4 linked regions of the Homo sapiens genome follow. The protein of the gene in region 2 binds, or shares a complex with, the protein of the main gene of each other region. Each region holds a gene or a part of one and is shown on either strand. Other genes may lie near its edges. The genes, in order: CDK2AP2, RBBP7, BPTF and EED.

Region 1 (6,287 bases), on a different chromosome or scaffold from region 2:
CCTGCTGTAGGGCCAAGCCAGTGGCTCCTGCCTGTAATCCCAGCACTTTGGGAGGCTGAGGTAGGAGGATTGCTTGAGCCCAGGAGGTCAAGACTGCAGTGAGCCATGTTTGCACCACTGCGCTCAAGCCTGGGTGACAGGGTAAGACCCTGTCTCAAAAATAAATAAATAAATATAAATGAATGAATTCAAGGTTCAACCCCTCAGGCACCTCCCAAGCAAACCCCTTCCCCCAAACATGGGTGTTATGGACTAAATGTTTGTGTCTCTCCAAAATTCATATGCTGAAGCCTAACTCCCAGTGTGGCTGTGTTTGGAGATGGACCGCTAAGGAAGTAATTAAGGTTAAATGAGGCCATAAGGGTAGGGCTCTGATTTGATAGGACTAGTGTCCTTTTTTGTTTTTTTACTTTTTTATTTTTTTAAGACAGGGTCTTGCTCTGTTGCCCAGGCTGGAGTGCAGTTGCATGATCACGGCTCACTGCAGCCTCAACCTCCTGGGCTCAAGCAATCCTCCCACCTCAGCCTCCCAAGTAGCTGGGACTAAAGGCACATGCCACCATGCCAGGCTACTTTTTGTAGAGACAGGGTCTCACTATGTTGCCCAGGCTGGTCTTGAACTCCTGGGCTGAAGCAATACTCCCGCCTCAGCTTCCCAGTGTGCTGGGATTACAGGAGTGAGCCACCGAGCCTGGCCCTTCTTTTGTTTTTTAGATGTCGGGTCTCACTGTGTTGCCCAGGCTGGACTCAAACTTCTGGGCTCAATCAAGTCTTCCATGTGAGCTCCCAAGTAGCTGAGATTACAGCCTTGCACCTCCCTGCCCAGCTTCCAGGATTAACGTACTTATAAGAAGAGACACCAGAAAGCTTGTTCTTTCTCTCTGCACCAAGGAGCACATATGAAGACGTGGCCAGAAGGTGGCTATTTACAAGCCAGGAAGGGAGCCCTCACCAGAAACCAACCGTGCTAGCATCCTGATCTCAAACTTGCAGCCTCCAGAACCATGAGAAAATAAATTTTAGTTGTTTAAGCCACCCAGTCTATGGTATTTTATTTTGTTTGTGGAATTAGGCCAGTGGCTATTGCCTGTAATCCCAGCACTTTGAGAGGCTGAGGCAAGAGGATTGTTTGAGCCCAGGAGGTCAAGGCTGCAGTAACTAATAGAATGGGCAGTGGAGAAAGTAGGAAGGTCTAAGGTGTGGAAGTGTCAGAGGTGTTTGAACCAGAGCAACTCCATCTTGAATAGGAGCTGGGTAAAATGAGGCTGAGACCTACTGGGCTGCATTCCCAGATGGTTAAGGCATTCTAAGTCACAGGATGAGATCGAAGGTCAGCACAAGACACAGGTCATAAATACCGTGCTGATAAAACAGGTTACAGTAAAGAGGCCAGCTAAAACCCACCAAAACCAAGATGGTGATGAGAGTGACCTCTGGTCGTCCTCACTGCTACACTCCCATCTGTAAACTGATGCCATGGCAATGTCAGGCAGTTACCCTATATGGTCTAAAAAGGGGAGGCATGAATAATCCACCCCTTGATTAGCATATCATCAAGAAATAACCAGAAAAATGAGCAACCAGTAGCCCTTGGGGCTGCTCTGTCCGTAGCCATTCTTTTATTCCTTTACTTTCTTAATAAACTTGCTTTCACTTTACTCTGTGGACTCACCCTAAATTATTTCTTGTGCAAGATCCAAGAACCCTCTGGTGGGATATGGATCCAGACCCCTTTCCTGTAACAGAAGGAGTTGGGGCTTGGTGGTTTCCAAAGGAGGTATAACCCTCAGTGGCTCCTCTTCACCTACTATCCACAGTAGATTTCTCTGAAGCGCACCCTCAGTGCCACCAGTAGGAGCAGAAGACCTTGGGTGACCTGATCAACACCTTTTCTTTTTAACAGTAGTTGAGTCTGAATATGTATTAGAAAACTATAAATACTGAGCACATGATTAAATGGACATTATGCCTTTTCCTTTCTATTTAAGATTTTGTAAAAGTGAATTAATTACAAGGAAATGTTAAATAGATGGCAAAACTGATGGAGTTTTCCTAATGGCTGGAGTTAGGGAAGCACTGGACTCCGTGGTCAACTCAGCTTCCTTACATCCACGTCACCTAAGGTCCCCTTCCTGACCCTGTGGTTATTTCCACGGCTCCACCTCCACTTCCCAGTGAACTCTCCAGCAGAAAAAAAAAAGGAAAAAAAAAAAAGGCTGGTTCTCAAACACATGTTGTGCTCTCCCATTTCCCAAGATTTTGCACATGACAGTCCCTCTACCTGGAGTGTCCCCTCGGTCTCCGCTTCCACCCCCACCTACTCAAATGCCACCTAGTCTGTAGAGATTTCTGTGATGCCACCCGGCAGGCCCTTCCTCTAAGTTCCAATGCATCCTGTCCCGTTATCCCTTGTGGCCATTGACTTACTGCAATGTAAAGAAGACGTTGCTTCCCTGTCTCAGAGTATAAGGCCTCCTTGAGTACAGAGGCCATGGCCTGTTCATTTCTGTAACCTCAGCGTTCAGCACAAGGCATGGGACGGAGGAGGGAGTCAGAACATGGTTTTTGTGTGTTTTTTTTGGGGGGGGGGTTTGAGACCGAGTCTTGCCCTGTCGCTCAGGCTGGAGTGCAATGGCACGATCTCGGCTCACTGCAACCTCTGTTCAAACGATTCTCCTGCCTCAGCCTCCCAAGTAGCTGGGATTACAGGCGCCCGCCACCACACCGCTAATTTTTGTATTTTTAGTAGAGATGGGGGTTTCACCATGTTGGCCAGGCTAGTCTCGAACTCCTGACCTCGTGATCCGCCCGCCTCGGCCTCCCAAAGTGCTGGGATTACAGGCGTGAGCCACCGCGCTCAGCCAGAACATGCTTGTTGGATGAATGAATGAATGAATGAATGAATGACTGTCCTAGAGATGAAGATCTACAAAGCTGGGAGCATGAAGATACACAAGGCCAGAGAAGTTTGAGTTTGGAGAAGGAGCCTGGGAGAAAGGGTTAGGGAGTGGAGGAGGGTCTGAGGTCTAACTCTGTGGGGAGTGAGACTTGAGGGGAGGGGTCTGAGTGGTGGAGTGGAAAGGTATGGGGGCCCTGTGGGACAGGAAGGCGGAGAATGAAACAACAAGCACTTTATGACTATTCATTTAATCCACACAACCCAATGAGATCGTCATTTTCCCCATTTTACGGATGGGGAAACTGAGGCATACTGAGGTGAGAAACTTGCCTGGGGGAAATCGCTAGTGGGGGTGGTGCTGAGATTTGAACCCAGACGGTTGGCTCCAGTCGGTGCTCTTGACCAGTTTGGTCCGGGGCCCGGCACGCAAGTAATCCCGAAGGTTTGCCCTACGGCCATTGTCACTAACTTAGGCAGCAGCGCGGGGCCTTGGGGGTGCGGGTAAAGGGGTCTTTGAGGTCGCCCTTAGACCTGAGGACGAGCCAAGCCGCAGGAAGAACGGTACGTGGCGGCATCCATGAGGGGCCTGTTGCCATGGGAACAAACGCAGGCCTCGGGCGGGCGCATGCGCAGATCGGGGAGCGGGTGTTGAACCGGTGAAAGGTGACGTAAAAGCGCACGGGGTGGGGCGCAGGGCTCGGGACGTCAAAGCCCTGCGTCCTTCGGCCCCCAGAGCGGAGAAGCGCGCAAGGCACCGGTGGCAGCGGCGACGGCAGCTGCGACAGCAACCCCTGCTGGGCCGAAACTGGGCAGAGCGGAGCAGACGTCTGAAGCAGCGCGAGTGAGGCGCGAGGGTAGCGCCCGCGCCCGGGAAGACCCCTCGGCGCGAACCGGCAGCCCAGCCCCGGGTCCCGGTTCCCAAGGCCCCGCCTCTAGGGCCTGGGGACTAATCGGATTGAGAGCGCGCCGGCCCGGGCCGCGAACTCGCCAATTGCGGAGGGCGGTGGCCACCGCCCAATCCGGAGCAGACAGGTGCGAGGTCCGGAAGGCGGAGGCCAATCGGCGGCGGTTGCGACCTGCTGGGGCAGGTCTCGGCCAATAAGGAGGCTCGAGTGACATCTTCGCGCACCAATCGGGAGTGAGGGAGCATTCGTGCCCGCTCGCCCTTCCGGCCAGACCTCTATTTACCAGGGGCGTGCAGCCCGCTTGCCAATCAGAGCGCGGCTGAGCGGCCCCGCAGCCAACCCCCGAGGAGCGGCCGGCTGGCGTCCGCCGCGCCCAGGAGTTGGGGATGTCCTACAAACCCATCGCCCCTGCTCCCAGCAGCACCCCTGGCTCCAGCACCCCTGGGCCGGGCACCCCGGTCCCTACAGGTGAGGATCCAGCTCCACCCCTGCTCGCCTGCCGGGCGGTCGAGGTCTCGAAGAGAAGACGGCCTGAGTTCTGCAATACTGGGCCTGCCGCCTACCCTCGCTGAGCCTCAGTTTGCTGGCCTGTGAAGTGGGCGTGGTCACGTAAGGGCTTGTAGGTGGAGCGCAGTGGGAGGGATTTGTCCCTGAAGTTGATCAGCATGGAATGAAGCATCCTTTGGAGGGAATCGGGCGAACCCGGTCCTGGGCTTGGAAAAGCTGGGAGGCGGCGTCCCTGCCCCGCGCTGACCTCTTACTCGCGCCTGTTGCTGCAGGAAGCGTCCCGTCGCCGTCGGGCTCAGTGCCAGGAGCCGGCGCTCCTTTCAGACCGCTGTTTAACGACTTTGGACCGCCTTCCATGGGCTACGTGCAGGTGAGTGGGGCCAAAGCCTTGCTTATGGATGCGGACTGGAGTCCCCCTCCCCGCCAGGTGCCTGAGCTCACTGCCCTGTTCTCTTTTGACATAGGCGATGAAGCCACCCGGCGCCCAGGGCTCCCAGAGCACCTACACGGACCTGCTGTCAGTCATAGAGGAGATGGGCAAAGAGATCCGGCCTACCTATGCTGGCAGCAAGAGCGCCATGGAGCGCCTGAAGAGAGGTAAGTGAGGCCAGGCCGCCCTGCTCAGGAAACCGACACTGGACTATCCTTCATGAGGGAAGGAAGGACATCTGGAGGCCACCTGAGCCAAGCCTAGAGGATGTCCAGTATTACTACCAGAGAGGTGTTTTGAATCGAATTGAAATTGAGTCCATTTCCAGGGAAGAGCATGGGAATTTGTATTTCAACAGGGCAACCTTGAGGATTAACCAAACCTCTAATTTCATCTAGCCGTCATTAGATTTGAATTTCTTTTGCCGAAAGTGGAAAGGGAGTGGGGAGGCAGGGGTCCTCCTCTGGAGGGCAGTGGGTGGGGCTGTGGAGGGTTGCTGAGACCCCACCCCACCCCCAGGTATCATCCATGCCCGGGCCCTAGTCAGAGAGTGCCTGGCAGAGACAGAGCGGAACGCCCGCACGTAACAGGAAGCGCCTCGGCCTCAGCGTCTGGACCTATCCGGCCACTGCAGAGCACCCGCTTCTCCCTGGCCTTCATCCCGAGTTGCACTAACCATCCTGGGCTTCCTGTCCTGTGTCCCTTGGTGGGTCCCCTCCAGGAACCAAGGAGTGGCCCTCCAGGTGGCAGCACTAAGGACACCCCCCCACAACAAGAGTTAGCAGCGAGGTCCCCATGAGTCCCACCCATGACCTGCCGACAGTGTTGCCCACCGGAACTTTTGTGGCCCCTACCGCTCAGCCCTTCCCAGCACTTCTCCCACTTTGTCCCGAGCCTCCTTCTCCCCCAGCAGGGGCACAGGCCTGGCACCTCCCTGCCTTGTGTCCTGAGCCATAGTGACTCTTTTATCTGTGTGTCTTTTGCTAAATATGCCCTTTTTATATTAATAAAAGATGATTTGGAGTTGTGCTCTCAGCTCTGAGCCTTTCTGGGTCTGGTTCTTCAGCTAAGCCTGGGTGGGCCAGGCAGAGACAGGGGAAGAGGAGACTATGGATGGGGAGGGTGTGATTAAATGAGGTTTGACTTGCCTCTGTAGGCCATCAGCCTTTGGTGGGACCTGGGCCCTCTCCGCCCCAGCCGTGGCGCTGAGAGCCCTGGGCCTTCCTGTGGTGCCACCAGGGGGCAGCACAGGGCCTGGCTGCTTCCACAGCCCTTGGCGCTGTGGGCAGCCTGGGCCTGGAGGGCGCTTCCTCTGGATTGGCGGTGATGCCTGGCAGCATGGAAATGCCAGTTCACGTAAGCCACTCCCTCACACGCCCTAATGCCCTGACAACACCCCAGCCTCTGAATCAGCCCTGAAGGTCTCTGACTTCTCAGAGAGAAAGGGCACTGCTGCTTCCAGCACTTGGCCTCAGTGTCAAGGGGAGGGGCTGGCGGGGTGCTGCCGTCACTGCCCCAGCACCTTGTAGCAGGCTGGGTGGGATCC
Region 2 (7,029 bases):
AAAATGTATTAACTAAATTTACCTTTTGGGGGATCTTTTTGACCCACTGTAACATAATAGAAAACAGCAGGGGCTTTAAACTTAGAGACCTGGGTTAAAATCATGCCCCTACTTCTTAGCTTCATGAACTGGGGCCGTGTTGTCTGGGCTGTAAATGGAGATGTTGGTCATACTGACTACCTACATTTGAGGGAATGAAATAAGATCATGCATGTTAAAGTGCCTGGTGCAGCATAAGTACACGGTAAGTGGTGACTGATGCTGATTCTCCCACCCCTTCCTGTTCAGAAATAATTTGTCAGGATTGAAATAGCTCTGTTTCTTCATTTGGATTTCAATGAAAGCTACTTGCTGAAGTTTTTTTTAAAAAAATGTTACCTATAATATGTAATACTTAGGAATGTAACAAAATGCTTTAATTAAATTATTTAATGTGTATCATGGTGTTCTTTGTATACAAAGCTGTTGTGGGATTGGGTTGTGGGATGTGCAGTGGCTTAGAGAATGTAAGAAAATGCCAAGCAGCCTGCATTCTTGGATGTTGAGGATTGTTGTGTGGTGCTTTGCAGGGTTCAGTTTGGGGTATAAAGGGACTGTGTTTTATCACCATACAGAACAGTAAAAATGTTGACTATTCTCAATGCCTGACTCTGAGGAACAAGATCCTACTCCACCTCATAGGCCTTTCTTCTGCTGACTTACAACATGCTTCATAACGATTACTTGGACTTTCTTAGCTATTGTCCTTCAATTGAGTTAGGTAATTGTCCAAATAATTGATTTGGCTGGCTGGCTTGCTTTCTTGCTTTCTTGCTTTCTTTCTTTCTTTTTTTTTTTTTTTTTTTTTTTTTTTTTTTTTTGAGACAGTCTCGCTCTGTCTCCCAGGCTGGAGTGCAGTGGCACCATCTTGGCTCACTGCAGCCTCCACCTCCCGGGTTCAAGCGATTCTCCTGCCTCAGCCTCCTGAGTAGCTGGGATTACAGGTTTGTGCCACCACACCCAGCTAATTGTTGTATTTTTGGTAAAGACAGGGTTTCACTATGTTGGTCAGGCTGGTCTCAAACTCCTGACCTCGTGATCCGCCCGCCTCGGCCTCCCAGAGTGCTGGGATTACAGGTGTTGATTTGGCTTTTAAAAGGTTTTATTTAAGTATCTCTAAGAAATTTGTTTTAATTAGATAGTTATTTCATATCTCTTGTTGAATAATGTCTTAAATATATTGAGACTAACTTATTGTCTACCTAAAAAGCTTTGTAATTTTTCAAATTCAGGAAGTATAAAAGGACATAGAGTGAAGAATAAGTCCCCTTTCCACATCCCTTACTGTCCTACTTCCTTTCCCCAGTCATTGTTTTCAATTTCCTAACCCATCCTTGCCAGCGTGTAGAAGTGCATACCTGTATCTTCATTTTTTATGGTAGCAAGTTCTTCACTTGAGTTTGTCAGTAAGAGTATGTATTGGAGATTTTCCTGTCAGCATGCTTGGATATGCTTGTTCTTTTCAAGAGTGCCATAGAATTTTGTTTATGGATACACTGTGTAATGTATGATACCAGTTCCTTGCTGATGGATACTTAGTTATTTTCAGTCTTTTTCCTTCTATAAACAATACTGCTGAGAATAATCTTGCAATAGGCCAGATTTATGTGATGCTTGGCTAAATTTCCTAGTGGTAGTTACTGGGGTCAAAGGATTCTGCACTGAAAATGAATAGGCTTTCTTAACCATTAGTCCTTCTGCAGCCTTTAGGTACATCCAGTATTGGAGGAAAATAGTGTCATATTGATTAGTTTAGGAAAACAGGCTGTGTTTTAATGATGGAGGTGAAGGGATTTCTAGTAAAAAGAAAAGTCCTCATATGATGATCAAGTTGGGGAAAACTGGAATAATTAAATTTGAGTCCAGAGGGATTTTTAAGCTCCTCCAGTCCGTCTTGGGACAGTGTTCCTTAGAAAGGGCCTGTGATAAACTGACCTACCTGTTATTTTTTACTTGTTGGTCTTAGTTTTCCTGCTCAACTCCACAAAAAACAAGTGACTTTTTTCCTTTGATGACAGTACCAGCATTGCTCTGTGGTGCCTTCTTTCTCTCAAGCATTATTATTTCTCTTTTTAAATATTTATTTAAATTTTTGTTTTTTGTTTTTGTGTTTTTTGTTTTTTGTGGAGATGGGATTTTGCCACGTTGCCCAGGCTGGTCTCGAAGTCCTGGGTTCAAGCAATCCGCTTGCCTTGGCTTCCCAAAGTGCTGGGATTAGAGGCGTGAGCCACCACATCCGGCCAAATATTTATTCTTTTTTTTTTTTTTTTTTTTTTTTTTTGAGACAGGGTCTTGCTATGTTGCCCAGGCTGGACATGAACTCCTAGGCTCAAGCAGTCTTCCGTAGTAGCCCTAGTAGCTGGTACTACGGGTGCACAGCACTGCACCTGGCTTACCCTTTCATTTTAAGCCACTATTCCCTGTAAAGGTTTGATTTTTATCCAAGTCCTCATAAAGTATGTTGCTTAGAGCCTAATTTTAATGGTTTTACTGGTTAAAAATAAGTGGGCAAGCCAGATATGGTGGCACACATCTGTAGTCCCAGCTGCTGAAGAGGTTGATGTAGGAGGATCAACTTGAGTCCAGGAGTTGGAGGCCAGCCTGGGCAACATAGTGAGACCTTGTCTCTTAAAAAAAGAAAAGGTCGGGGGTGGGGGGCACATGTGCTCATGTGCATTGCCCCCTACATACATATAAAGACCACCTAAGATGGAATTAATTAATTTTTTGATAGCCACATCATATTCTTGGCCCACTGTGCATGTATCAACCAAGACCCATGTTTTCTTTCTTTTTCTTTTTTTTTTTTTTTTTTTTTGGAGACGGAGTTTCACTCGTTGCCCAGGCTGGAGTGCAATGGTGTGATCTTGAGATCTTGACTCACCACAACCTCCACCTCCCAGGTTCAAGTGATTCTCCTGCCTCCGCCTCCTGAGTAGCTGGGATTACAGGCATGCGCCACCATGCCCGGCTAATTTTGTATTTTTAATAGAGATGGGGTTTCTCCACGTTGGCTAGGCTGGTCTCGAACTCCTGACCTCAGGTGATCCGCCTGCCTTGGCCTCCTAAAGTGCTGGGATTACAGGCGTGAGCCACGGCGCCCATTTGTCTTTTTTTCAAACACGTTGCTATTGCTTAGTCACGGCTGCCTTACTCTGTTTTGGGGGGAGTGTGTCTGTGTGTGTGTGTGTCTCTTCTCCATGTGCACACACTTTTTTACCGTAAGCCAAATTTTGGTAAAATTGCATCTTGTATTTTCTTATTACTAAATTACTTGCCTAGAAGTAATCTTCAATCTTTTTAGAAAAAAAAAAAAAATTGAATCCTTTGTGCAGCTGAAATTTAGAAACAGATAAATGGCCTAACTTGTCTTGTGTTAGGGCCTAGACCCCTACTTCTCAGTCCTCTTCATTGAAGTGGGACCATGGAGCACAGTTGAAAATTGTATTCTAGATAATACAAATGGGAAAGCCTTTTTAATAGATACTGATGCAAAAATCACTGCTCGGACCAAGGTGCCAAGAGGTTTGGGCAAGTTCTTCAGCCTCAAGGTGTTTCCACAGAACAAGGTAACAAAGATACCTCGGTAAAATTGAGAATGTTCGTTTCATAAACTTAGGTATCATAAACGTCAGTGAGTTTCACATCATGCCATTTGCACTTATAGCCTATTTTATTCAGTGAAGAAACTGAGGCCCCAGGGAGGTTGTGTTTTAAGCAACTGCATTTTAGTTTGATCCAGGATTTAAGCTAAGTTTTTTTGATTCAACACTTTCTGTCCATACTACCTTGTAGAATTTCTTATTGGGAAATAAGAAACATCTAGTGTATAAGATATTTTTAGGTGGGAAGAAGATTTCTTTAGGTGGGAAGTTGTGATTTATGAGTGTGGGGATTGTTGGTGGATTCCTGTGTAGATGTTTGTCTGTGTTTACTGAGTTGGGCCTACCTTCCCCGGAGTGCTGCTCTATAAAAGGTAGTGTTCACGCTGATAATTGAGGCACAGGAGGATGGCTCTTTGGGAAAGAAGCAAGCCCTCTGCATGTTGTAGCTAGAATATTTTCTTATATTTGCATATGTGGGGATTGTAAAGTTGGTAACCAGAGGGGGAGAAGATACACAGTTGATGCTAAGTATATATTTGCTAAAGAAATATGAATGTATTTTGAGGGAACTAGACTGAATTTGTTAGCAATTGGAGATTTCTTGTAGGATTAGTGTGACTTATTTTCTTTCTTAAACAGACCTGAAGGAAAAGATTATGCCCTTCATTGGCTAGTGCTGGGGACTCATACGTCTGATGAGCAGAATCATCTGGTGGTTGCTCGAGTACATATTCCCAATGATGATGCACAGTTTGATGCTTCCCATTGTGACAGTGACAAGGGTGGTAGGTATATCATATATTCCAATATTGGTGTCAAAGGGAAAATGTCTCTTTCAAAGCATATGCTATTAAAACTATACTATTAGCTTTTGGCCCAGTAATTTAACTTCTAGGACTTTATTCTACAGAACTTCCCACCCACATGTGCACAAGGATTTTAGTCGTAATTGCAGAATTGAAAAATTAGGATCAACCTTGTAACCCAGATGTTGGTTCATAGAAAGTTGGTTAAGCACATGGTATGTTTGAAATACTACTCAGCAATTAATAAGAAAGGCCAGGTGCCATGGCTCACGCCTATAATCCCAGCACTTTGGGAGGCCAAGGTGGGAGGATTGCTTGAACTCAGGAGTTCAAGCCCAGTCTGAAAAACACAGACCTCATTTCTACCAAAAATTTAAAAAAAAAATTTTTTTTTTTAATGAGAAAAATCTGTAGGCACTGGTATAGGAAGGTATCCAAGATAAATTAAGTGACTAACTGCTATGTGTAATTACAGTATTCCACTTTGGTAAAAGTAATATGTGTTGGTGTGTGCAATGGGTATTTTTTGTTTGAGGAGAGAGGCAGTAGTGGTAGGGTTAATTCAGGAATCTGTTGGCTGCTTTTTTCTTTTTTTAATTTGTCAAACATATACTCTCCTGTTTTGGTATTCCCATGACCACCCCAAGTTTGGTGATTTTGCTAGGACTCCCAAGAGCAAATTATACTTGTGGCTAAAGTTTGTTACAGTAAAGAACACAAAAGCAGCAGGAAAAAGATGTACATCGGCAAGTTCAGGGAGGTCTGGCACAAGTCTTGTCCAAGGCCACACAGGATGTGTCTTCCGGCAGCAAACTGCAGGGACATGTGTGAAATATCTCTGCTCAGGGAAGCCTGTTTGGGTCTTGGGGTCTGAGGCTTTCTTGGGGGACTAGTTGCATAGGCACATCCTGCTGACAACCAGCCACAGCAACTGTAACTTGAGGACCCCAGTAATACAAACTGAGGACCCAGTAATAAAAGAAGGTACGTGTCATCAATCTTGATATCTGCAGAGTAACCCTGACAAACTGGTACAACGCGGTCCATTGCTCCAGGTGCACACCACAAAATCATCAGTTCATCAGTGACAGAAAGAACATTCTGAGGTGCATGTTCCCAGGAGTTAGCCAAGGGTCAGTAATAGGGTCCCAGTGTTCCTCAGAGACTCCAGGGCTAAGCACCCAGACTGCTGTATTAACTCTTTCTTCACAGTCCCAAATGGCTTAACGCTATTAGCACTTTCTAATATGTGCCTTAGGGTTTTTTTCTTATTGAAAATAAAATACTGGCCAGGTGCAGTGGCTATACCCATAGTCCCAACACTTCGGGAGGCCAAGGCAGGAGGAACGCTTGAGCCTGGGAGTTTAAGACCACTCAGGGCACACAGTGAGACATTGTCTCTATCAAAAAATAAAATTAAAAATCAGCCATGTGTGGTGGCGCATGCCTGTAGTCCTAGCTACTTGGGAGGCTGAGGATCGCTTGAGCCCAGGAGTTCGAAGCTGTAGTGAACTAGGATCACACCACTGCACTCCACCCTGAGCAACAGAGCAAGATCCTGTCTCAAAAATACTACATTCTCTAGTGTAGTGAAACTGCTAGGTTGTATGGTGTATTCATTGTCAACTTCATAGAAAACTATTTTCCAAAGTGATTTACCCAGTTTACTACTCCCACAATTTACTGTTCATTCCCCGACAACTGTATGCATTATTTCTTTAAATATTGGGGTTTTTTTGTGTTTTGTTTTTGTTTGTTATGAGGCAGGGTCTCGCTCAGTCGCCCAGGCTGGAGTGCAGTGGTGCAATCTCGGCTCACTGCAACCTCCACCTCCTGGGTTCAAGTGATTCTCGTACCTCAGCCTCAAGAGTAGCTGGGATTACAGGCGTCCACCACCATGCCCGGCTAATTTTTGTATTTTTAGTAGAGACTGGGTTTTGTCATGTTGGCCAGGCAGGTCTCGAACTCCTGGCCTCAAGTGATTCGCCTGCCTAAACTTCCCAAAGTGCTGGAATTACAGGCATGAGCCACCACTCCCGGCCTGAATATATTGTAATCAGAAATTTTTAAATGGCTTTTAGCCCTGAAGTATGTATTTACCGGGCTTGCAGTTTAACAGTCTCTGCATAATGATGTTAATATATTATTAAAGTTACACATCCAGTGTATTCTAACAAGTAGCTGAAATAATTCAGTTAATACCTTTGTTAATATTCAGTATATATATTTTTTTTTTCTTTTTTTTTTTCTTTTTTTTTTCGAGACGAAGTTTCGCTCTGTCACCCAGGCTGGAGTGCAGTGGTGTGACCTCAGCTCACTGCAACCTCTGCCTCCTGGGTTCAAGCGATTTCCCGAGTAGCTGGGACTACAGGCGCCCGCCACCACACCTAGCTGATTTTTTGTATTTTTAGTAGAGACGGGGTTTCACCTTGTTAGCCAGGATGGTCTTGCTTTCCTGACCTCATGATCCGCACGCCTTGGCCTCCCAAAGTGCCGGGATTACAGGCATGAGCCACCACGCCCGGCCAATATTGAGTTACATTTTTTAATGGATATTATCATTAAGACAGTGACTTTTC
Region 3 (7,029 bases), on a different chromosome or scaffold from region 2:
GAGTTCAAGGCCAGCCTGGGCAACATAGCAAGACCCCATCTCTACAAAAACGTTTTAAAAATTAGCCAGGTGTAGTGCCACATGGCTGTGGTCCCAGCTACTTGGGGGTCTGAGGCAGGAGGATTGCTTGAGGCCAGGAGTTTGAGGCTGCAGTAAGCTATAATTGTGCTGTTGCACTCGAGCCTGGATGACAGAACCAGACTCAATCTCTTAAAAAAAAAAATCTTAATTCAGTACTAATTCACTGAGGAGTCATGTATCTAGTAACCTTAGCATTGTTGCAAGTAAGAGAAAACCAGAAAGAAAGTGATAGAGGCTTCCAAAACACTGTCACATAAATGAGGTTTTTCAGTGAGAACATTTGGACACAGGATGGGGAACATCACACACCGGGGCCTGTCGTGGGGTTGGGGGAGGTTGGGGGATAGCATTAGGAGATATACCTAATGTAAATGTAGAGTTAATGGGTGCAGCACACCAACATGGCACATGTATACATATGTCACAAACCTGCACGTTGTGCGCACGTACCCTAGAACTAAAGTATAATTTAAAAAAATAATGAGGTTTTTTTTGGGGGGAGGGGTTGTTTTTGTTTTTTTGAAATGGAGTCTTGCTCTGTCACCAGGCTGGAGTGCAGTGGCGTATCTGGCCTCACTGCAACCTCCGCCTCCTGGGTTCAAGCAGTTCTCCTGCCTCAGCCTCCCGAGTAGCTGGGACTAAAAGTGCACACCACCATGCCCAGCTAATTTTTGTATTTTTTATAGAGACAGGGTTTCACTATGTTGGCCAGGGTGGTCTCAATCTCTTGACTTTGTGATCTGCCCGCCTCGGCCTCCCAAAGTGCTGGGATTACAGGTGTGACCACTGCGCCTGGCCTATAAATAAGCTATTAATTGAGTTTTTACAACTGGCTAATGAGCTTTAGTATTTAGAATCACCGAACTCTATAGAGATGAACTGCTCTTTTAAAAGATCATGTGTTTTTAAACTCAAGTTCAATGAGCCGATTATTTCACGAGGGTGCCAGGTGACATAGTGAAGACCACATATGCACAGAGTGATAGAACGCTGGCAGGTCCCAAGCCCTTTTCTGTGATTCTTCTCTTACCTCACCACTATCCTGCTCTTGACAGGATTACGGTTTCTTTGCACTCTCTTCTCTTTCTTCAGCCAGACCTTTCTGGAAGAAATCATTCATTTAAATTAAAAATAGATATATTTTTTATATCTATTTTCTCACACCAGTATCTTGCTCGCGACAGAATTATGATTTCTTTGCACTCTCTTCCCTTCAGCCAGACCTTTCTGGAAGAAATCATTCATTTAAATAAAAAATGGATATACCTTGCTAGGTCCTTGGGATATTTAGGTTCAAGTGAAGAAGGTAAAGAATAGGAAAATGCCTTTAAGTCCAGGTGCCATGGCTCACACCTGTGATGGGATGCCAAGGCAGGGGAGGATCAGTTGAGCCCAGGAGTTCAAGAAACAGCCTGGGCAACATGGCAAATCCCCATCTCTACAAAAAATGCAAAAATTAGCCAGACATATTGGTACACACCTGTATTCCCAGTTACTCAGGAGGCTGATGAGGGAGGATCGTTTGAGCCCAGGAGTTCAAGGCTGCAGTGAGCTGAGATGAACCCACTGTGCTCCAGCCTGGGTGACAGAGCAAGACACTGTCTCCAAAAAAAAAAAAAAAACCTTTAAGTCCCAAGAATATTCATCTAGACAGTAGTTCTGTTTTGGGAGGCTTGATTTTTTTTTTTTTTTTGTAATTATTATGGGAAATTTAAAACTACACAAATACAAAGAGAATAATGAACTCATTCAGCTTCAACAATTATCAAAGTTTATCACTTTTTTTTTTTTTTTGAGATGGAGTTTTGCTCTGTCACCCAGGCTAGAGTGCAGTGGCATGGTCTCAGCTCACTGCAACCTCCACCTCCCGGGTTCAATCAATTCTCTTGCCTCAGCCTCCCAAATAGCTGGGATTACAAGTACCCGCCACCACGCCGAGCTAATTTTTGTATTTTTAATAGAGACGGGGTTTTGCCATGTTGGCCAGGCTGATCTCGAACTCCTGACTTCAAGTGATCTGCCTGCCTCGGCCTCCCAAAGTGCTGGGATTACAGGTGTGAGTCACTGCTCCCAGCCAAATTTTATCACTCTTTGTTTAGTTGTCACTGACCACTTTTTTTAATCCTGCAGTGTTTTAAAATAAATCCCAGAAATCATGTTTCACCAGAAGTTCAATATGTATCTCTACGTAGACATTTTTCCATAACCATCATGTCATTATCACACTCAACAAATTAACCGTAATTAACAAATTAATAATCTGATTCTCAGTCCATATTCCACTTGCCCTGGTTGTCTTAGAGATACCTTTTTACTGTAAGCAGTAAACAAGGCCACAGATTGCCTTTGATCCTTTTTTTCAGTCTTTTATTCTGTTATATAAACTTCAAGGAGTCCAAGAACCATTGAAATAGATTACAAAAGTTTATATACATACTTTTTTCCTTGGTAGAGGATCATAGCATTTATCCATTTCTAATAGGGTTCTGTGACACAAAGTATGTTAGAAACCACTGATATGGGCTTTCTGGAATGATCAAATAGATTGTGATAATCCTTCATACACGAGTTTTCTTTCATTTTATTTTTTTATGTGTGTGACAGAGTCTTGCTCTGTCAGCCAGGCTGGAGTGCAGTGGCACCATCTCAGCTCGCTGCAAACTCTGCCTCCCAGGTTGAAGCAATTCTCCTGCTTCAGTCTCCCAAGTAGCTGGGACTACAGGCTCGTACCACCATGACTGGCTAATTTTTGTATTTTTAGTAGAGATGGGGTTTCACCTTGTTGGGCTGGTGTTGAACTCCTGGCCTCAAGTGATCTGCCTGCCTCAGCCTCCCAAAGTGCTGGGATTACAGGCATGAGCCACCACACTCACCCAAATTTTATCACATTTGTTTCAGTTGTCACTGACCACTTTTTTTTTTTTTTTTTTTGAGATGGAGTCTCACTCTGTCACCCAGGCTGGAGTGCAGTGGTACGATCTCAGTTCACTGCAGCCTCCAACTCCCAGGTTCCAGCGATTCTCCTGCCTCAGCCTCCTGAGTAGGGATCACAGTTGCACGCCACCATGCCTGGCTAATTTTTGTATTTTTAATAGAGGCGGGGTTTCACCATGTTGGCTAGGCTGGTCTTGAACTCCTTGTCCTCAAGTGATCCGCCCACCTTGGCATCCCAAAGTGCTGGGATTACAGGCATAAGCCACTACACCCATCCAAATTTTATCACTCTTGTTTCAGTTGTCACTGACAATTTTTTTTTTTTTTTTTTTTTTTGTTGACACGGAGTCTCACTCTGTCGCCCAGGCTGGAGTGCAGTGGCGTGACCTCAGCTCACTGCGACCTCCGCCTCCTGGGTTCAAGCAATTCTCCTGCCTCAGCCTCCTGAGTAGCTGAGATCACAGGTGTGCACCACCACACCCAGATAATTTTTGTATTTTTAGTAGAGATCGGGTTTCACCATGTTAGCCAGGCTGGTCTCAAACTCCTGACCTCAGGTGATGCACCCACCTCGGCCCCTCAAAGTGCTGGGATTACAGGCATGAGCCACCGCACCAGCCTATAGTATTAATGTTTATCTTGTAGCTGACTATGTTACTGAATCACAGTTTTTTGTTTTTTTTTTAATTTTTGGACACAGAGCCTCACTCTGTCACCCAGGCTGGAGTGCAGTGGCATGAGCCACCGCACCAGGTCCCCCCCCCCCTTTTTTTTTTTATCCTGCAGTGTTTTAAAACAAATTTCCTAAATCATATTTCACCAAAAATGTTCACAAAGTTTTCTGAAATGTCTGAAGTTCAGGCATTCCTTCTGTGTTTTAGGTCAGCCAGGCATATAGGATTATATGGTACCTTATACTCAATAAGACCTTTGTCTTTTTTTTTTTTTTAAATGAAAAAATGAAACATAACTTGCTGGAAATTACTTGTTTATTTTCACTAAACTTGACATATTAAAGTGCTAATACTCTGGAAATAACGTAAATTATCGTTACATGGTTCTTTTTAGCCAAAAATAATATGGATGAAAATATGGATGAGTCAGATAAAAGAAAATGTTCACGAAGTCCAAAAAAAATAAAAATAGAGCCTGATTCTGAAAAAGATGAGGTAAAAGGTTCAGATGCTGCAAAAGGAGCAGACCAAAATGAAATGGATATCTCAAAGATTACTGAGAAGAAGGACCAAGGTAAGGAGAGTCAGCTGTGGAGGGCAGCCTGGGGGTGATAAGAATGCACTGGATCAGGGTCCCACCACAGGAAAGGTACTGCGTTGTGTTTTCTTGATAACAGCTTTATCAAAACATAATTGATATCCCATACAATTCACCCAATTAAAGTGTAAATTCAGTGGCTTTTAGTATATTCACAAAGTTCAACCATTATTACATCAATCTTAGAACATTTTCATAACCTTGAAAAGAAGCCTCATTCATACCCATTAGCAGTTACTTCCCAACCCCTCCCGAAAGTGCCACCAGCTTAGTGGTCTACTTTCTGTCTCTCTGGATTTGCCTATTTTGGACAGTCCATAGAAATGGAATCAGACAATATGTGGTCCTTTGTGGCTGGCTTCATCCACTTAGCATGGTTTTAAGGTTCATCCATGTTGTAGCATTTATCAGTACTTTCTTTTTGTTTCTGAATAATACTCTGTATGGATATGCCACATTTTGTTATCCATTCATCAGTTGATGGACATTGGGCTGTTTCCTCTTTTGGCTATACGAATAATGCTGCTATGAACATTCATGCAGAAGTTTTTTGTGGCCATGCGTTTTCACTTCTCTTGGCGATATACCTAGGAATGGAATTACTGGATCATATGGTAACTCTGTTTAACCTTTTGAGGAACTACATTGTCTTTTGTAACAAGTCATTTTTAAAAAAAAACTAGATAAGCTAGATAATGCATGTGGCTAGAGATACTTTAAAAAAATATTTTTGGCTGGGCGTGGTGGCTCATGCCTGTAATCTCAGCACTTTGGGAGGCTGAGGTGGGCGGATCACCTGAAGTCAGGAGTTCAAGACCAGCCTGGCCAACATTGCGAAACCCTGTCTCTACTGAAAATTCAAAAATAAGCCAGGCATGGTGGCACATGCCTATAATCCCAGCTACTTGGGAGGCTGAAGCATGAGAATTGCTTGAACCCAGGAGGCGGAGGTTGCAGTGAACTGAGATCATGCCACTGCACTCCAGCCTGGGCAACAGAGTGAGACTCCATCTCAAAAAAAAAAATATATATATATAAATTCCTCCTTTCAGAGTAAAAATTACATTTATATAAATGTCTTTGTTTCACAGATGTGAAGGAGCTCTTAGATTCTGACAGTGATAAACCCTGCAAGGAAGAACCAATGGAAGTAGACGATGACATGAAAACAGAGTCACATGTAAATTGTCAGGAGAGTTCTCAAGTAGATGTGGTCAATGTTAGTGAGGGTTTTCATCTAAGGACTAGTTACAAAAAGAAAACAAAATCATCCAAACTAGATGGACTTCTTGAAAGGAGAATTAAACAGTTTACACTGGAAGAAAAACAGCGACTCGAAAAAATCAAGTTGGAGGGTGGAATTAAGGGTATAGGAAAGACTTCTACAAATTCTTCAAAAAATCTCTCTGAATCACCAGTAATAACGAAAGCAAAAGAAGGGTGTCAGAGTGACTCGATGAGACAAGAACAGAGCCCAAATGCAAATAATGATCAACCTGAGGACTTGATTCAGGGATGTTCAGAAAGTGATTCCTCAGTTCTTAGAATGAGTGATCCTAGTCATACCACAAACAAACTTTATCCAAAAGATCGAGTGTTAGATGATGTCTCCATTCGGAGCCCAGAAACAAAATGTCCGAAACAAAATTCCATTGAAAATGACATAGAAGAAAAAGTCTCTGACCTTGCCAGTAGAGGCCAGGAACCCAGTAAGAGTAAAACAAAAGGAAATGATTTTTTCATCGATGACTCTAAACTAGCCAGTGCAGATGATATTGGTACTTTGATCTGTAAGAACAAAAAACCGCTCATACAGGAGGAAAGTGACACCATTGTTTCTTCTTCCAAGAGTGCTTTACATTCATCAGTGCCTAAAAGTACCAATGACAGAGATGCCACACCTCTGTCAAGAGCAATGGACTTTGAAGGAAAACTGGGATGTGACTCTGAATCTAATAGCACTTTGGAAAATAGTTCTGATACCGTGTCTATTCAGGATAGCAGTGAAGAAGATATGATTGTTCAGAATAGCAATGAAAGCATTTCTGAACAGTTCAGAACTCGAGAACAAGATGTTGAAGTCTTGGAGCCGTTAAAGTGTGAGTTGGTTTCTGGTGAGTCCACTGGAAACTGTGAGGACAGGCTGCCGGTCAAGGGGACTGAAGCAAATGGTAAAAAACCAAGTCAGCAGAAGAAATTAGAGGAGAGACCAGTTAATAAATGTAGTGATCAAATAAAGCTAAAAAATACCACTGACAAAAAGAATAATGAAAATCGAGAGTCTGAAAAGAAAGGACAGAGAACAAGTACATTTCAAATAAATGGAAAAGATAATAAACCCAAAATATATTTGAAAGGTGAATGCTTGAAAGAAATTTCTGAGAGTAGAGTAGTAAGTGGTAATGTTGAACCAAAGGTTAATAATATAAATAAAATAATCCCTGAGAATGATATTAAATCATTGACTGTTAAAGAATCTGCTATAAGGCCATTCATTAATGGTGATGTCATCATGGAAGATTTTAATGAAAGAAACAGCTCCGAAACAAAATCGCATTTGCTGAGTTCTTCAGATGCTGAAGGTAACTACCGAGATAGCCTTGAGACCCTGCCATCAACCAAAGAGTCTGACAGTACACAGACGACCACACCCTCAGCATCTTGTCCAGAAAGCAATTCAGTTAATCAGGTAGAAGATATGGAAATAGAAACCTCAGAAGTTAAGAAAGTTACTTCATCACC
Region 4 (7,029 bases), on a different chromosome or scaffold from region 2:
TGCTTGTACCTTCAGAAGCTATGGCCTGAGCCATACTTGAGCCCCTTCAAGCTATGGGGTGACCAAAGAGCACTGCCTTGGAATAGGGGGAGCAAAGTGCTGAAGTGGCCCTGGACAGTGAATGTAGAGGTCCCATGGGTGCTACTCTGGAAACCTTGCCCTCAAGGTCTTAGCTATGTCTTGAAGATCTCTGAAATGCCTTTGTGGTCATTATCCCATTGTCTTGGTGAATAGAACCTGCCTTCTCTTCCCTATTAATCTCCTTAGCAATTAGTCACTTAGCTACATCCTTAATATTCTCTCTCAAACATGCTTTTTTATTTTATATATTTTTTGAAGAGACAAGGACTTGCTATGTTGCCCAGGCTGGTCTTGAACTTCTGGGCTCAAATGATCCTTCCACCTCAGCCTTCGAAAGTGTTGGGATTACAGGTGTGAGCCACCACACCCAGCCTGCTTTTTTTTTCTTTACATGGCCAGGCTGAGAGTTTATAAATGTTTCTGTTTTGCTTTCCTTTTTAATTACAAATTTCACCTTTAGATCATTTCTCATTTTATGATAAGCAGCCAGAAGAAGCCATGCATCACTGTGAATGCTTTGATGCTCAGATATTTCTTCTGCCAGGTATTGGATTCATTGCTCTTAACTTCTGCCTTCCACAAAGTCCTAGGGCATGGACACAGTCCTGCTAAGTTCTTCACAACTGTATTGCAAGGATGGCTTTTATTTATTTATTTAATTTATTTTTTTGAGGCAAGGTCTCATTCTTGTCACCCAGGCTGGAGTGCAGTGGCACAACCTCTGCTCCCTCACACCCTCTCCTTCCCTTTTGCTGTGAGACGATTCAGCATGAAGGCCCTCACCGGATGCCGGCACCATGCCAGTGATCCTTCCACTTCAGCCTCCCGAGTAGCTGGGACTACAGGCACATGCCACCACACCCCGCTAGTTTTTGTATTTTTTGTAGAGATGGAGTTTCACCATGTTGCCCAGGCTAGTCTCGAATTCCTGAGCTCAAGTGTCCACCCACCTCAGCCTCCCATGCTGCTGGAATTACAGGCATGAGCTACCACACCTGGCCTGGCTTTTTTTTTTTTTCTTTTAAAGACAGGGTTGGTCTCTGTCACCCAGGCAGTGCAGTGGCATGATCATAGCTCACTGCAGCCCAAAACTCCTAGGCTCAATTGATCCTCTTGCCTCAGTCCCCTAAGTAGCTAGAACTGCAGGTACACGCCACCACACCTGGCTAATTTATTTTCTGTAGGGATTGGGTCTCACTATGTTACCCCGGCTGGTCTTGAATTCCTGGCCTCAAGTGATCCTCCTGCCTCAATCTCAAAGTGCTGGGATTACAGGCATGAACCATCACACCCTGCCAACAGGGATAGCTCTTACTCCATTTTCCAATAACTTCTCATTTCTGTCTGAGACCTCACTGAATGAGACCAACCTCATTCTGTCTGAGACCAACATTGTTCTACCAACATTCTGATCACAACCACTTAAGTAATCCTTAAGAAGATAAAGGCTCTGCCTGAAGCTCTTGTCTTCTTTTCAGCCCTCACTGGAATTACCCTCAATGCTCCACTCACACCAATATAGGCTTTTTCTAGCCTGCTCCTCCAGATTCTTCCAGCCTCTCCTCGTTACCCAGTTCCAAAGTCATTTCCACATTTTCAGGTATTTATAGCAATAGTCCCGTTTCTGAGTACCAACATTCTGTCTGAGTCCATTTTGTGCTGCTATAACACAATACCACAGACTAGGTGACTGACTGATGGATTAATTAATTTCTTTTCTATTGCTCAGGCTTCACTAATTTTTAAATTTTTTGTTGAGACAGGGTCTTGCTATATTGCTAGGGCTAGTCTCAAACTCCTGGGCTTAAGCAGTCCTCCCATCTTGGCCTTCTGAAGTGCTGGGGTTACAAGCATGAGCCACCGTACCTGACTGGGTGATTTATAATGAACAAAAATTTATTTGGCTCCTGTTTCTGGAGACTGGGAAGTCCAAGAACATGGTGCCGGCATCTGGTGAGAGCCTTCATGCTGAATCGTCTCAGCAAAAGGGCAGGAGAGGGTGTGAGGGAGCAAGAGATTGAATTTATAGCCTCAGGCCCTTTTATAATCAGTATTAATCCATTTGTGAGGATGGAGCCCCCATGACCTAAATACCTCCCATTAGGCCCCAGCTCACACCACTATTGCATTGGGGATTGAGTTTCTAGCACATGCTTTTGGGGGGGCCTATTCAAACTATAGCACTTACCTAGCTAATTCTACATCTGATGTAAACATTTTAAGTTGCTATGTAATATGGATTCCATTTTTAGGCTTTACTGTGCATAACTTACATCTAGACTTTAGTAGTTTTTCTTTCACAAGATGTTGAAAGTTCACAGTAAATAAAAAACATTCGCCTAATTTTTGTATGTTTATACTAGATCATGCTTTACGATTATGGAATATCCAGACGGACACTCTGGTGGCAATATTTGGAGGCGTAGAAGGGCACAGAGATGAAGTTCTAAGTGCTGTAAGTTGGAAACTGCAGGGCAATGACTTTCAGGTTTACATAGCTGTGAACAGTCTCCATGGAACTGTTTCCTTATAAGAAAGTGTGTTTCATGTAGCCTGTCAGGCAGACATTCACTTACATTTGACATAGAAGATTTTAATCTCCAGATGAAGGAATAAAACAAGTAAAGACTATATTTATTTATTTATTTTTTAAATTACTTGCACTGTATACCAATCCCTGGAGTCTTATGAGAGCAGTATGATCTTGCTCCTTTCCTTTTAATCTAAAATCACTAAGTTAATGTTTGTTTTGCCATTTCGCAGTTATTAAAGAAAAAAATTAAACTATGTAGCCATTAAAGTGCTTTTCCATCTTTTGTTTGAAGTTGAAACATAACGTTTTTTGCTATTTGGAAGTGTTTTATTGTGCTCACACTGTTTTAGGTAACTTATTTCTAGCCATTCTCTTTGGGTGGCGTGGTATAATACAAGACCAGTTTAAAGATAAATACCACCTTTATATTGATGTATTGTAATCCATTGGTCCATTATACAAGTGTTTTTAGTTAGGTTTCAGATTTTAACATTATTTTTGCTTATGTTCCATATTTAGCTCATTTGATTCCTGTAGTAATTTCACATCTCTTAGGTTGTTTTCCATTAAACTATGTAAAGGGGCACCATATTTTACAGCATGTAACATTTTAGTTGAAGGTACTAAAATATTCCTATGTTGAAGTTTGGATTCCTTTGTGAGAATCATACCTTCCTTCGAATACCTTGTCAACTTGGATTTCCTAAAAGTTGCAGTAGCATTCTACGTCTGGCTTTATGTGTGTAAAAGCCAAGTGAACTGTTCTTTATTAATAACTCCAAATTAGTGGTATTGTCTCGAAGGATGTCTTGTTGCTGTTGACAGTGAGGTAATTAGAAGTACCACAACTGTGAATTCAATAAACATCAAGCCTAAAGTTCTTAGGCTCTTATAAAATGGTGCTCATAATTAATGCAAAGGCTGGATTAACATATAGTATCTAGGTTAGTAAGGAAAATATACTCCTTCAATAGAACTCTCTACTGTTATTTCTTAGAATGAGAGCAGGAGACAGTATGTAGCTCTTCTGTGTAATACAGGAGTTCACTGGAGGTGGATAGGTGTGTGAGATTTTCATTACTCATTATGTGCCTTTTGCTAAATTAAATAGCATCTCTGGGCCTTAGTGTCTGCCTATGAAATGAGGTTGTTACAATAGATGATCTGTTACATGCCTGTTAAAAATTAGTAAACAGCAAATGAAAAAAGTTAAAATCTGTTTTTTATTAGACTTTTAAAAATTCACTTAAAAGTGAACTCTAAAACTAACTTCAAAATATTTTGACTTAGAATTATAAAGTAAGATGTCAGCTCTTTAAGGATTCATGTATTTTCACATGCACATGTCAGTTTCATTGGTTGGTTGAGGTTGGATAGGAAAAGTAATATCACTATTCAGCTCTTTGTGTCAGAATAATTATTTTAACTTAGTATTCAATTTACCTTCAAAATAAGCAAAATAAATATTTTAGTGTAATTGAATAGATAAAACTAAGTTTAAGTAATTTTTTCTTGGTTTATACATTGTAAATGCTCTTATATTCCGATGTTGACAAACTAATTAAAGCTGTAAATCTTGAAAGTAGTAAACTCTGATTTATGGCCTATTTAGATGAAACCCAAAATGTAGTTTGTATTGTGATTTGAAATACAGTTTTCACTATGTTGCACATTAGGCAAAAATTGGATAAATATAATTTGGAGCTGTAATTTATATAAAACTTTTTGGTTTTGCATACAGGATTATGATCTTTTGGGTGAAAAAATAATGTCCTGTGGTATGGATCATTCTCTTAAACTTTGGAGGATCAATTCAAAGAGAATGATGAATGCAATTAAGGAATCTTATGATTATAATCCAAATAAAACTAACAGGTAACAGTTGTGGTATTTGAAACAATTTGCTATGTTGTGCTATTGAATATAAGTTTTATTTTTTCCCAAAATTGCTATATAAGCCCCAACAATGAGTTTAGAAGACCTTCTTTTAACTTTAAGGGACAATTTACATACTGTAAAATTCACCCCTTTAAGAAGTCCTTTATTTGCAGTGTTTGTGGCTTAGTTTTCAAAATCCCCTTTAAATTGTGTTGTCATCTTAACTTAGTAGCACATTTTACTTATTTGTATTTTGGTATGCATATGCTTGGCCTTTTAAGTTATAAATGTAAAAGTTTTAAATCACTTAAGCTTATTATGGACTAGGGAGAGTAAAGGACACTTTAGAATAATGTTAACTTTTTTTAAATGATGCTAATTCTAATTCAAGATGGTAAACCACAGTTTTAAACAATGGAGTTCTTAGCTCTAATTCATGATAATGTTTTTCCCTAAATGATGCTCACTTGATTAAATGGAGAGAATTCAAATGCAGGAGCCTCACTTCATGGTACTATAGGTTGGGGAATTTTGCAGTTTTCTTAGTATATTTTTGAAATGTCTCAATTCTTAATGCAGTAACTGTCTTTAGAATCTTATCAGGCTGTCATTAACACTTTCACTATAAACGTTGTATGTCTGCATGTTAACTTTGTTGGCACTTTTGTTTTAGCAAAGAGCTAGAATTCATTTTCTGGTTATCAAGCCAGATTGTTAATAGATTATTAAATTTGTAAGCATCAGTAAATATTTCAATGCACTAACATTCATCAGACCTAAGTGTCCTCTAAGAATTATTAAAAGTTTTACCTTTCTCCTTTAAAACACCAGGAGCTAGTAGGACAATGTTAAATTTATATTTTTAGATTATTTTCTAGATATCTGGAATAAATACAAACTATATTTCAGAGTTTTCAAAAAATAACAGTTGTACTCGTTTTTTCTTTGAGAGAGGTTTGGCCATACAATTATAGTATGTATTTAGCTAAAAAGCAATTAATATAATTATAGCAGAGTTAAGAATTTATATCAGATCACGAATAACATTTTAATGTTTCAACAAAATATCCCAGAATTTGAATTGGAAGGATTGTTTTGAGTTGCTCCAATCCAAAGTGCTTTTTTACATATCTGAGGGAAAAGGTAAAGAGAGGACATATGAATTGCCTAAGACAACTAATTCATGGCATATTATACTTATACAGCTATTTCTGATTTAAAACTGAGTATATTAGGAATGTTAAGTGTACTGTTAAATAACTCCAGAATTAATAGCAGCTTGTTTTGTTTCTTCTCACAAATATCTCTAATGAAAACAGTGTTGCCATTTAGTTTCCTAAATACAGAAATTATTTGGAAAAGTCCTAGGAAATTTTATTTTGTTCTATTTGTTTTTTTGAGACGGAGTTTTGCTCTTGTTTCCCAGGCTGGAGTGCAGTGGTGCAATCTTGGCTCACTGCAACCTCTGCCTCGCAGGTTCAAGCGATTCTCCTGCCTCAGCCTCCCAAGTAGCTGGATTACAGGCGGCCGCCACCATGCCTGGCTAATTTTTTTTTTTTTTTTTTTTGTATTTTTAGTAGAGATGGGGTTTCACCATGTTGGCTAGGGTGGTCTCGAACTCCTGACCTCAGATGATCCACCTGCCTCGGCCTCCCAAAGTGCTGGGAGCCACCGCACCCACCCCCACTTAAGAAATTTTAAATTCCTGTAAGGCATCATTTTCAGAAATTATTGCTCAAGGCAGGACTGTAGATGTATCTTTAGCAGACTTTGGAATGATGTTTAGTTGTTCCTGGAAAGATGACTATCTTTTGAAATAGTGTAGATATATTGACTTTCATAGATTATTAATGCTTAATTTTAAGGACTGAGTAGGTAGCTTAGTATATTTTCAGTGAGAAACTGATCAGGCCTTTATTATTGGTTAGGGTACCCAGAATTGAGGTGATTAATTTTGGGTTATATATAGTAAAACGCAGGAAACTACAATGTTTATAAACAAAGTATCTATCATAGGACAAAGATAAAATTGGATAATAATGGAGAAAAATAAACAAAAGTGGAATGAGACTTTAGCTTTCAATAAATAGATAAGGTGGTTGGTTATGTAGGAACACAGAGGAATTAATAGTCTTACATTTTGTTTTTCCAAGTTTTATAAATCCAAAAATGAAAAAGAGTATGATTCTACTATAATTTTTTCTTTTAACTTTTTACATTTCCATTCTTCCTTCAGGCCATTTATTTCTCAGAAAATCCATTTTCCTGATTTTTCTACCAGAGACATACATAGGAATTATGTTGATTGTGTGCGATGGTTAGGCGATTTGATACTTTCTAAGGTATGGTAACTGCAGTTAAGCTGTACTTCCATCGTGTGTGTGTGTGTGTGTGTGTGTGTGTGTGTATGTGTGTGCGCATGTTGGAACTTGGCAGGGAGCACTTTATGTAGTTTATTAAATTGAATGGCAGCTGGGAAGTTGCCTTTTTTAAAGTCTCATATTTTGATATATTTAGAAACTTGTTTTAAGAATAAA

The links.
Region 1: RBBP7 (region 2) and CDK2AP2 share a complex: the UniProt entries of both Homo sapiens proteins name them as parts of the nucleosome remodeling and deacetylase (NuRD) repressor complex.
Region 3: RBBP7 (region 2) and BPTF share a complex: the UniProt entries of both Homo sapiens proteins name them as parts of the BPFT-SMARCA1 complex.
Region 4: RBBP7 (region 2) and EED share a complex: the UniProt entries of both Homo sapiens proteins name them as parts of the PRC2/EED-EZH2 complex.

Annotation. Positions count from the first base shown.
Region 1 is NC_000011.10:67,505,986-67,512,272, reverse strand, and holds CDK2AP2 (cyclin-dependent kinase 2-associated protein 2), read left to right. Parts: upstream 1-4,110; 5' UTR 4,111-4,190; coding exon 4,191-4,272; exon of another isoform or gene 4,273-4,583; coding exon 4,584-4,681; intron 4,682-4,775; coding exon 4,776-4,908; intron 4,909-5,260; coding exon 5,261-5,328; 3' UTR 5,329-5,776; downstream 5,777-6,287. UniProt on the Homo sapiens protein: Acts as a component of the histone deacetylase NuRD complex which participates in the remodeling of chromatin.
Region 2 is NC_000023.11:16,860,355-16,867,383, reverse strand, and holds part of RBBP7 (histone-binding protein RBBP7), read left to right. Parts: intron 1-4,283; coding exon 4,284-4,429; intron 4,430-7,029. UniProt on the Homo sapiens protein: Core histone-binding subunit that may target chromatin remodeling factors, histone acetyltransferases and histone deacetylases to their histone substrates in a manner that is regulated by nucleosomal DNA.
Region 3 is NC_000017.11:67,905,499-67,912,527, forward strand, and holds part of BPTF (nucleosome-remodeling factor subunit BPTF), read left to right. Parts: intron 1-4,083; coding exon 4,084-4,263; intron 4,264-5,378; coding exon 5,379-7,029. UniProt on the Homo sapiens protein: Regulatory subunit of the ATP-dependent NURF-1 and NURF-5 ISWI chromatin remodeling complexes, which form ordered nucleosome arrays on chromatin and facilitate access to DNA during DNA-templated processes such as DNA replication, transcription, and repair.
Region 4 is NC_000011.10:86,261,728-86,268,756, forward strand, and holds part of EED (polycomb protein EED), read left to right. Parts: intron 1-2,444; coding exon 2,445-2,536; intron 2,537-4,355; coding exon 4,356-4,489; intron 4,490-6,728; coding exon 6,729-6,834; intron 6,835-7,029. UniProt on the Homo sapiens protein: Polycomb group (PcG) protein. Component of the PRC2/EED-EZH2 complex, which methylates 'Lys-9' and 'Lys-27' of histone H3, leading to transcriptional repression of the affected target gene.